Regions from separate parts of the Homo sapiens genome. Here region 1 is linked to region 2. The links come from fine-mapping of genetic effects on gene expression. A gene starts in region 2. The other region holds a variant in brackets. All regions are shown on one strand. Distances are between the middles of the regions. Region 1 has its middle 36 kb from the start of NRXN3. Region 2 holds the start of SAMD15 (sterile alpha motif domain containing 15).

The links. PIP is the estimated chance that this variant, and not a neighbour inherited with it, causes the effect. A credible set is the group of variants that fine-mapping cannot tell apart.
Region 1: its variant is the best candidate, but not a certain one, in a credible set for the expression of SAMD15 in testis (GTEx, PIP 0.81).

Annotation. Positions count from the first base shown.
Region 1 is chr14:78,131,571-78,136,946 of GRCh38, reverse strand. No RefSeq gene overlaps it. Among named protein-coding and RNA genes, the nearest start is that of NRXN3, 36 kb to the left of the region's middle. The variant AC/C (reference allele first, on the strand shown) is at 2,929.
Region 2 is chr14:77,374,764-77,380,139 of GRCh38, reverse strand. It overlaps SAMD15 (sterile alpha motif domain containing 15), which reads right to left and starts at 2,761. Exons shown (of 3, transcript NM_001010860.4): 1 at 1,033-2,761. The coding sequence starts at 2,721. TMED8 (transmembrane p24 trafficking protein family member 8) reads left to right here and starts at 3,046. Exons shown (of 6, transcript NM_213601.3): 1 at 3,046-3,204. The coding sequence starts at 3,087. RefSeq lists an enhancer at 2,779-2,988 and a silencer at 3,039-3,468.

The DNA of each region.
Region 1 (5,376 bases), 760 kb before region 2:
GCTGGCTCACGTCTCCACCTAAAACAGCAGGCCCACACTTTCTCCTGGTGTAATAGGATGTCTTATGTGGGAGGAGTACAGACAGGACGCCTGTGGGACTCTCAATCTGCCAAAGCATGGAGCAGCTCCACTGAGAGTTGTATCAAAACCCCATGTTCTGTCAAGAGAAAATAAGAGAAGGTAAAAAGGCTTGATAAATGAAAATTTTAGATCATTGTTTAAAAAGGCCTGCAAATGTCCAGTATGACCCACAGTGCCCAGCACTATGGGGTAGGAGCCTCCAGGCAGTAGCAATACATGCAGACAGATGATTTGGTGTGGTTTCAGGTGGGTAATCCATTTGTGGGTAAGACCCGGGCAAACTGAGAAGTACAAGGGGAAGGGTGCCACCTCTTGGGGCAAAAGGTTGAAGTTCATGAGAACTGTGCAGTAAACCCCTCCTCTTGCATCTCTAGTATGGTTTCTCCTTCTTCACTTCCATCCCCAACACTTCAGTAACTTAGTAACTCAATATTACACAATCATCCCTCAGTAACAGTGAAGGATTGGTTCCAGGACCACCCCCATGGACACCAGAATCCTCAGGTGCTCCCTTATATAATTACTTAGTATTTGGATATAACCTACACACATCCTCTTGTACACTTTAAATCATCTCTAGAGTACTTATAATACCTAATATGATACCTACACATCATTTCATTTGTTTGATTCAACATAGTACTAGGCACACAGCAAGTTTAAGTTTTGCTTTTTGGAACTTTGTGTAACTTTTTTCAACTGGATATTTTTGATTGAATACACAGATGCGGAACCCACAGATATGGAGGACTGATTGTACTTTATAAAGAACTATGCAGAAATACTGGAATGTCCTTAATGTAAGCTCCACAAGGGAGGCGACTTGTGCCTGTTCATTGCTCTATCTCCAGCAAACAACACAGCATCTGAAACATAAAAGGTGTTCAATAATACTCATTGAATGAATGAGTGTACTTGGCAGGCTGCTGATACTAGATCCCAAGAAAGAAAAAGGGACTCTGGCTACAATGGAGAAAGTGAAGCATTTCACAGGAAAAGGCTGGGCTGGTGTAGGTGGGGAGGGGAGTGTTGATGGGCACGTAGAAACAGCCACTTCCTCTTTGGCAACAGACAAAACTCTCTATGAAAATATTTACTATGGAGGGGATTGATGGGGTAGTCAGAGGTGACTTTCAACCAATACACATTAGTTCAGCTGTACTGGTTGTTTATAGCTGAATGGTCAGCGTCATTGTTATACCGGTTATTAAATACTTAGAATATCACCCTAGAAAGAGTGCATAGTATACTCTCTAGTCTGGAAAGCATGACCCCTGGGCATGGGCATGACTAAGCATGCAGGGGAAAGCCACCGGATCAAAAGAAGAATCAAGACAGCCACAGCCAAGACTCATAAGATAAGACTTAGGTTCTGTGACTCATGCCTGGATACTTTTTTCAGCAGCCATACCCTTTGGGGACCCGGGATAAATTAAACAAAGACCAAAGTAATCCAAATTCCACAACTTAAAAAAATTTTATTAATATCACATTCCACCATGAGGACCAAAATTTAAATGCTTGTACCTGGTCCTAAAATAGGCATTCTGAATAAGGCTTATATGAGGGGGGAAAAATACCCCTTCTCCTACTTTGCCATCATGATCTTTGTCCTCAATTTGTGGATGTTTATCCCAAGAAGTCCCCATCTACTTTGAATCTCCAGATTCAAGCTCATTCATTTATTCTTGCATTCAAATAATGTGCTTTGAGCTTATACTCCATGCCAGGCACTGAAGTTACAGCAATAAACCAAAAAGAAATGATCCTTTCATTCTGAGAGTGTATAGTCTATTAAGAAAGAAAGATAATAAGCAAATAAACAAATAAGATGGGTCTTTTAGACGGTACTAAGTGCCATAAAGAAAATAAAACAGGGCAATAAGGTAGACAGCAACCATGGAAGAGGGAGAAGCTTTAGAGAGAGTGGCAGGTAAGTATATTTTGAGCTCAGACTTGGATGAGATAAGATAGCAAACCCAGCAGATATTTGAAGAAAGAGTATTTAGAACTTAAAAACACATGAAGGCAAAGGCCCTAAAGGTTAGAATTTGCTTGGTGTTTTCAAGAAATTAAAAGAAGTCCAGTGTCACTTGAGCATAGTGAGCAAGGGGAACCCTGATTGGAAAAGAAGTGGGACAGGAGGGCAGGGGCTGCTTCGAGGAGGGGTCGGAAGCCATAGCTGGGAGTTAGCCCAGTCATCAAAGTTTAATGGAGAGCCAGAGGATTTTAGGTAAATGAGTGACATCACCTGACTTACATGTTTAAAACTCATGCTTGTGTGGCTAAGGTGGACACAGAAGACGTCAGGAGCCAGGAAGAACAGGAGTCTGTTACAGGACTCCGGGCAAGAGATATTGGTGGCTTAGGTGGTAAGGATGGAAAGAAGAGGAAACCCACCCTCCTTGGGGGTTCTTAGCACCTTGGAAGAGTTTTAGTCCCTTCCCTGTGTCCACATCAAAAGGTAGTAATGATAATAACAAGAGCAGCAGCTCTGAGCAGTAACTGTATGCCAGATACTGTCCTCATAACATCCTTTTCACATGCAATCTCATTTCATCTTCTCAATGAATCCATGAGAAAGGTTGTTAGGGACTGAGCTGTGATTCCCCAAAATCCATATTTTGAAGCTCTGCTCCCAATGTTACTATATTTAAAGACAGGACCTTTAAGGAGGTGGTTAAGATTAAACGAGATCATATGAGTAGGGTCCTAATACAACGGGATTGGTGTCCTTATAAAAAGAGCAAGAGAGGACGGCATGGTGGCTCACGCCTGCAATCTTTGGGAGGCCAAAGCGGATCACCTAGGTCAAGAGTTCAAAACCAGCCTGGCCACCATGGTGAA[AC/C]CCCATCTCTACTAAAAATACAAAATCAGCCCGGTGTGGTGCAGGCGCCTGTAATCCCAGCTACTCAGGAGGCTGAGGCAGGAGAATCACTTGAACCCAGGAAGCAGAGGATGCAGAGAGCCAAGATCGTGCCATTCCACTCCAGCCTGGGTGACAGAGCAAAAACTCTGTTACAAAAAAAAAAAAAAGGAGAAGACGACGAAGACGAAGAAGAAGAAGAAAGAAGAGGAAGAGAAAACAGCTCTCTCTCCCTCTATGTTCATACAGAGGAAAGGCCAGGAAAGGACACAGAGAGAAGATGGCCTGCAAGCCAACAAGCGAGGCCTCAGGAGAAACCAAACTTGATGACACCTTGGTCTTGGACTTCTAGCCTCCAGAACTGTAAGAAAATGACTTATGTTGTTTAAGCCACCCAATCTATGGTATTTTGTTAGGGCAGCCTGAGCACACTAATAAAAAGGTACCTGCATCAAATAGCATGTAGAGGCTGGGCGCAGTGGCTCACACCTGTAATCCCAGCACTTTGGGAGGCTGAGGCAGGTGGATCACAAGGTCAGGAGATTGAGACCATCCTGGCTAACACGGTGGAAACCCCATCTCTACTAAAAATACAAAAAACTAGCCGGGCATGGTGGCGGTTGCCTGTAGTCCCAGCTACTCGGGAGGCTGAGGCAGGAGAATGGTGTGAACCCGGGAGGCACAGATGTTGCAGTGAGCGGAGATCGCGCCACAGCACTCCAGCCTCAGCGACAGAGCGAGACGCTGTCTCAAAAAAAAAAAAAAAAAAAAAAATAGCATGTAGAACAGGGTCCTCCTGGTTAGACTTCCTGAGTTCAAACCCCAGCTTCACACTTCATAGCTTACCTACTTCCTTGGCTTCTGTTTTGTTTTATTGCTTTTTAGCTTTATTGAGGTGTAACTGACAAATAAAAATTACATATATTTAAGGTACACAACTTGATGTTTGATATATAATGTGAAATAATCACCATGCTCAAGCTAATTAACATCTATCACCTCCCATTGTATTTTATATATGAACGATGAAAACACTTGCAAATTTCAAGAATACAGCAAAGTTTTGTTAACTATCATCACCATATTGTACATTGAATCTCCAGAATTTGTTTTTTATAACTGAAACTTTGTACCCTTTAACCAATATCTCTGCATCTCCCCTGCCTTAGCTTCTTAACCATGATGCTCTATTGCTTGTCTAATGAACAGCAAATGACTCCAATGAATATAAATTATGTCAAAATTATATTAACCCTATATACCACCCAGTTGAAGATGAATATAAAATATCCTCAGCCTAAAAACCAGGTGATCTATCAGCAAGTAGCTCTGTTTAATGGAAAAGTAATGAGGGGCAGGCAGAGGATAGTATTTAATACTGGAGCTCAGTGAGGAAAAAGCTGTTCCCCCAAAAGCTTTGACTCCAAATACTTGGCAGCTAAATAAAAAATCTGTAAGACCTCCCTCCTTTCAACCTCATTCTGATTGAAGCCACCCTCAATAGGTTCCATCAGGCACACGGAAGCATAGAATGTTAGCCCAGGGAGAAACAATGGAGTTTCTATCTTGTCCAGGCCCTTATCTTGACAAGTGAGGAGATGGAGGTGCAGAATGATCAAGTGACTGCAGAAATTTACAGTTAGTGGGGCCACTGTTATGGAATTGTCCAACTGTTGCTTTAATAAATTCCATTTTTAAATCTCTCTGAAAGCCGTCTGTATATTTTAGCAGAACAGCATGTCCCGCCTCAGACATGGCTGAAGTTCAGGCTGATCTAATGAGCAAAAAAGCTTGAAGGAAACCTTCCTGGGGCTGCTTCTGGCCATTATTTTAATCCTTTTTTCAAGGACATGCAGCCCATACCACAGCCAGGTGGGTGGGAGCAACTCCTCCGGAGCAATTCAGCCACTGGAAGAGATGGGGCATGGTGCTCCCAGCAGATTTTTTTAAAATAAATGCTCATTTCCTTTCACATTTTGCAAGAGGACCATTTAGTGACACAAATTTTTTTCCCATTCACATTCAGCTGCCTACAGGCATGTGACTTCATGACTTTCTACAGATGCTTCCAGGCACTGATCACGCCAGCTCTTTGTCACTGATACACTCCTGCCATTGAGCTGAAGTTAGCAGGAGGATGGAGGTGGCATTTTTCCCTTGAAAGGCTGAGAAAATCCCTCGCCCCCACATCCAATCAGCCTCTGGAGTCTGCCATTTCTTCCTTCCCAATGTCTCTCGCATCTGTTTCTCCCCTCCCCTCCCACTGTCACTGCTCTGGTTCAAGACTCGATCACTTTCTGCCTGGGCTGCTGCAACAGCCTCCTCCTGCCCTTCCCACCTCTGGATTTTCCCTCTGGATCCACCCAGGATACCACCATTCGAGCCATCTCCCCACTGTCTTTATCACTCCCCTGCTCAGAAACCTCCAG
Region 2 (5,376 bases):
GAGTAGCTTAAATTTACTTTCTATCCCAATAACGGCACAATTTTTCCATGTAAGCTCTTTATTAAATTTTACACTGCTCTTTAACTGTTTTTTTGGGCATGGTACAACCAGTGCTTCTTCATGTCTCAATTACATTTGTAAGTATAGTAGGTACAAAAGGTTTCAGATCTTGTATTGTTTTGTGGTAGCCTTAAACCTAGTTGGCATCAGTGAAACAAGAGGTTTACACTGACTTTTTACTAAAACTAGTTTTGGTTAACTGGCTAACTTGAATTAATACACTTAAGTGCTCATGATACAGGTGACATATTTGGGGCAGACACTTTAAAAAGTAATAGCACAAGTTCAAAGCAAGGGAGCTGCCACTAAAATAACTTGACAAAGTACCAAAAAGCCTACCTTGAACAAAGTCTACTTAAAAATACAGTTTTCTATGAAAGGAGGTCTAAGGCCGGGCACGGTGGCTCACGCCTGTAATCCCAGCACTTTGGGAGGCTGAGGCTGGCGGATCACGAGGTCAGGAGATGGAGACCATCCTGGCTAACACAGTGAAACCCCGTCTCTACTAAAAATACAAAAAATTAGCCGCGCATGGTGGCGGGCGCCTGTAGTCCCAGTCCCAGCTACTCAGGAGGTTGAGGCAGGAGAATGGCGTGAACCTGGGGAAGGTGGAGCTTGCAGTGAGCCGAGATCGTGCCACTGCACTCCAACCTTGGCAAGAGCGAGATTGTGTCTCAAAAAAAAAAAAAGAAAGGAGGTCTATATACTCTTCTTGGTCTTTTATTCAAGGATTGCAGAGAAGTGTAATCACTGGAAGAGGAAAAACAAACCGATGTGACCCTCCCTTCCTCTCCCAAAATACAAATATACATCAGTGGCAAGGCCAAAATTAAAATCCAAGTTACCTCTACCACAGTCTAGGACTTTTTGATACTCCTTCCGGTAAAGAGGTAAGAGCTCAGGCCAAGTTAGAAGGAATAAGAAGTAGACGGATGACAGCATGTGATTTCAAAACATCTTATTTTTGTATACCTTGTATTGAGGGAAGCCTAGCTGGCTAATCCACTCTGCAACTTCCTCTGGATCCCAATTAAGATGCTCAAATTGTAACTCAGTCCCTTTTTCTGGCTGGGTTTCGTCATCTTCAGAGACCCGTTCCTTCAACTCTTGGGACAAATCTACAACTTCCTTTTCATGAACGAACTCACTTAATTCTGTCTGAGACTCTGAGGGATCTGAGTATGAGCATTCTTCACTGACATTAAGCAATTTTTGGAGTGGTTGCAAAAACTCATAATGTGTACCAATTGATTCTTCACTTTCTCTGAGAGATCCTAATGCGTAATATTCTTTTCTAAATTTGTCACTTAGTGACAACTTTCCTCTTTTAGGCTCACGGTGCTCTAGCTCATCGTTTCCTACAGAATACTTAGACTTTATTGGTTCTGGCCTGTCTTCCTTGGAAAATTCTACATGTGTCTCCCTTGGTTTGGTTTCATCTGGTAACTCTAGAATTTTCTCAGTTGGCTTTGTTTGTGTTTTCTCTTCAACTTGTGGGTTGATCTCCTGTGGTAGCACTGGACCAGTCTCCTCTGGTGGCTGTGGATTTTTTTTCTCATTTGACTTTCTTATCTCTTCTGGACTTTCTGGTTTCATCATTTCTGATTGTTCTAGAATTGTTTCCTCATTTGTTTTTCTTGATTCTTCCTCAGGAAACTCTAATTTGATCTCTTCTAGTGGCTCAGGAACGTTCTCATCAGTAGACTTTCTTGGCTTGTGGTCTGGAAAGTCTGGTTTAGTCCGCTCAGGTAGTTCTGTCCCTTTCTCCTCAGTTGCCTTTCTTTGCATCTCCTCTGGAACCTCTGGTTGAGTCTCTTCTGGAGGCTCTAGACCTGCCTCCTCACTAGACTTTCTTGGTTCCTTCTCCAGAAATTCCAGTCTAGCCTGCTCGGGTGGCTCTGTCCTTTTCTTCTCAGTTGACTCTCTTTGTGTCTCCTCTGGAGTCTCTGGTTTGGTCATCTTTGGTGGCTGAAGATCTGTCTCTTCAAGTGATTCTCCTAGTTTCTCACTTGGAAAATCTTGTTTGGTCTGCTCTGGAGGCTCTAGACCTGTCTCTTCATGTTGCACTCTAAGTGATTCCTCTGGAACCCCCGGTTCAGTCTCCTCCTCTAGTAATTCTAAATTTCTCTCTCTGACTGTGGCCCCCGAAACCTCAGACATGGTTTCCGTTGGTGGCACTGGATCTGGATCTGTTTCCATAGCTGACTCTAGGAACACATCCTCTGTAACATTTGGTTTAGCCTCCTCTGGTGGCTCTAGGTCTGACTCTTTATGCGTTTCATCCATAGGGGCCTCCAAATCTTTGAAAAACTCTCCCATCTCTCTGGATGTTTCCGACTTTACCTCTTGGTGTATCCCTGGTTCAGTTTCGCTTGGTACGTCTCTCTTGGACTCCTTGGCAATTCCTTCCTGGGACGTCCCGCCAGGTTTCAGCTGCACGTTCTTAGCACTGTCTGGCTCCCCCTCTTTGAAGTCCTCTTCCTCGGTCTCTGGCTGTGGCTCTTGGTAAATCTCTGCTGGTAGCTTCGAGTCTGCCTTTGCCATGGTGTCTGGTTCGGCATTTTCATACAATTTATGAAGTCCAGGCAGTTCAGGCCTCTCAGGCTCCAGCTCTCCATCTTCATCTGGGCCGGAATCATAATCCTCCGGGACTTCAGCCATTTGCAGCTTAGCAGACGCGCCGCGGCTTCCTAGCAACCCCAACTTCCGATAGCGTCTCTATGGATACCACGATTTCCGGCAGTGTCTTCCTGACTCTTCCCCAGGTTTTGTTTGTTCTTTCAAGCCCTGACTTTAAAAATCGTCTGTCACAAGCACGCAGTAACCCTCCCTGCGGCCTCATCGCCAGCCTCAGCGGGCCAGAGCTCCTGTGGCCGCCCCTGGGTCAGCTAGCTTTTCAAGCGGCCGCCGCGCCGCTTCTTCCGGCCTGCAGGCTGCGCTCGGCTGTGCTCGGCGCTCGCTCGGCCTTCGGCTGTTTCCGGAGCCACTCGCGGCTGGCAGCGGAGAGCTCCGTGCGCGGGCTGCAGATGTCTGACCTGCAGGCGGCTGAGGGGCCGGGCTCCTGGAGCCCCACAGCCCGCCCAGGGTCGGCTGGCGGCGTCGGGGACTGCCAGGGAGTGGAGGGGAGCCAGGCGGCCGCCTCAGGTACGCAAGGCCGGGGCGCTGGCGGGTGGGTGCCGCCCGGCCTCAGGGCCCCGCACCACGGCGCGAGCCTCCGCCGCGCTCTGTCCTGGGCTTCCCCGCGGAGCGGACCCACCTCGGCAGCCCCTTCGCGCGCGGGGCCCCTTCCCCGCCGCTGCCACCACCCGGGCCCTGGGCTCGAGGTTATTTTCTACTCACTCCTGTTTCGAAATGCCTTGATTCCTGCCCCGCTTCCTTTCTGAGATCTGCCCAAATGGTAGTGACAGGGTGGCTCTGCCCCTGGCGCCTCTTCAGCTTCAGTTTCAGCTTCAGCCGGGGTTCGGGTCCCACCTCCGTCTGCTAATCACATCTAGACTGCCGACCCGAACCCTACTGGCCTCGCCGCCCCCTGCTTCTGGCTCCCCACCCTATCCCCATCTCAGTCCCCTGCCCCAGCCTTACCACGCGCCTCTCGGCCCCCACCCGGGTTGGCAGCCTTGCCTTCCTCTGCCAGAAGCCCACTGCGCCCTAGCCTTCCTGCACATAGGCCCCCTGGCCTTGCTGCCATCCTCTCCATCGCTTAGAGTGGGAAAAATGAAAAGCAGAGTTGAAATAGGTAGTGTCTGGGGTCTTTTGCTTGAACACAGTAGCCAAAGCAAGAGCAGGAATTAAAAATTTGGCCTACCTCCCTCATTCTCAAGACCCTCATCCTCTTCTTGTCCAGGACGACGTCTCCATTTCTACTAACGCGAGTTCCTCCGTGTGTATTATTTCAGTGTCCAAAGACAAAAGAGTCCATCCATCACACTTTCTTCTTTCAGCCTCCTGAACACCACACACGATGCAACTGAAAGGATGCTCTTTTGAAATACGAAAGGGTAGAGGGGAGAGAACTTGTCTTATTTAAGTAGCAAATATAAATTAATTTTCTAGGTCTGAAATTAAAATAGACACCATAAAGTATAATGGTTGAGGCACTACTGTGGAGCCAGGGTGCCTGGATTGGAGTCTGAAACGTCAGTTTCCTCATCTGTAAAATGTGATTACTAAAAATATCTGCCTCATAGGATTATTGTGAGGATTACTTGAGCTGCTTTGTCTAAGGCATTTGGGGTATAGTCCATGGTACACACTATACTCGTCTCAACCATTGTGACAGTAAGGTCTCTTTTTGTTCAGTTGAACTTCCTGTGCCGCCAGAGGTGTTCTTGGATGTATGGCTTCCAACATGGTGCCTTTTTCTGTCTTCTACTCTGATCCCAAGTATCTTCCCTCTCATAATGCTGCCTTATTCAAACACACACACAACTCACCCAGCTCTTTCCCATGATTTTATATTCTTTTACTTTAAAACACCTGACAAATTTTGCCTTTTTTTCTTACGAACTCTGCTTTGTATTAAATTAAAAATCGTTGGCATATATTTAACATAGCAGTAGAAATTCTAAGCATAATGTCTAAAAGACTAAGCAAGTAAACACAGAAAGGTAAGTCTTATAACACTTGTCCCTTGCATGCGCCAGTATTTACAAATTAAGCATGTTTTTACTTCCCCTTTAGGTTCTCATGTGTTTATGGCAAACGTACCCACGCGTTTTAGATAGATGAGTGTGTTTTTTTTTCCCCCTGACATCTAATTCATTCCTGCATTCACTTCCTCCCAGGACATTGGTAGAGATGCTTACTTTCCTTCCTCTTACCCTCAGAATGCAGGGTGATAATTTTTTTTTTTAATGTCATGTAGGGGTTTATTATAGTAGCCCAGAGCAAGCTCTTCCTCTTGAGGTAGGATTTGTTGCTAATAAAATAATAGTAATGATAACCTACAGATATTGAATGCTTATTCTGTGCCAGAGGTGGAAAAAAATTTATATTTTCTGATTTAGTCATGTCAACAATCATTTTCTTCCCATTTTACAGAGGAACAAACTACAGCTGAGAAAGGTTAACTTACCTGTTCAAGTTAGCGCAAGTTTTTACTGTCTGGATGAAATTGTCATCTTGTTATGATGAAGTCTATAATTGTTTGTTTTTATTGGCCATGAATCAAGTATTGGTACTCGCAGACAGGTTATGGTCTCTGTCCTCAAGGTGTTTTCAGTTTGATGAGATGAGAGATCCATTTCAGGGAGAAACAATTAACAATTCAAAACATTATATAATTGGGCGTCTTTTATTACAATTCTTTATCTACTA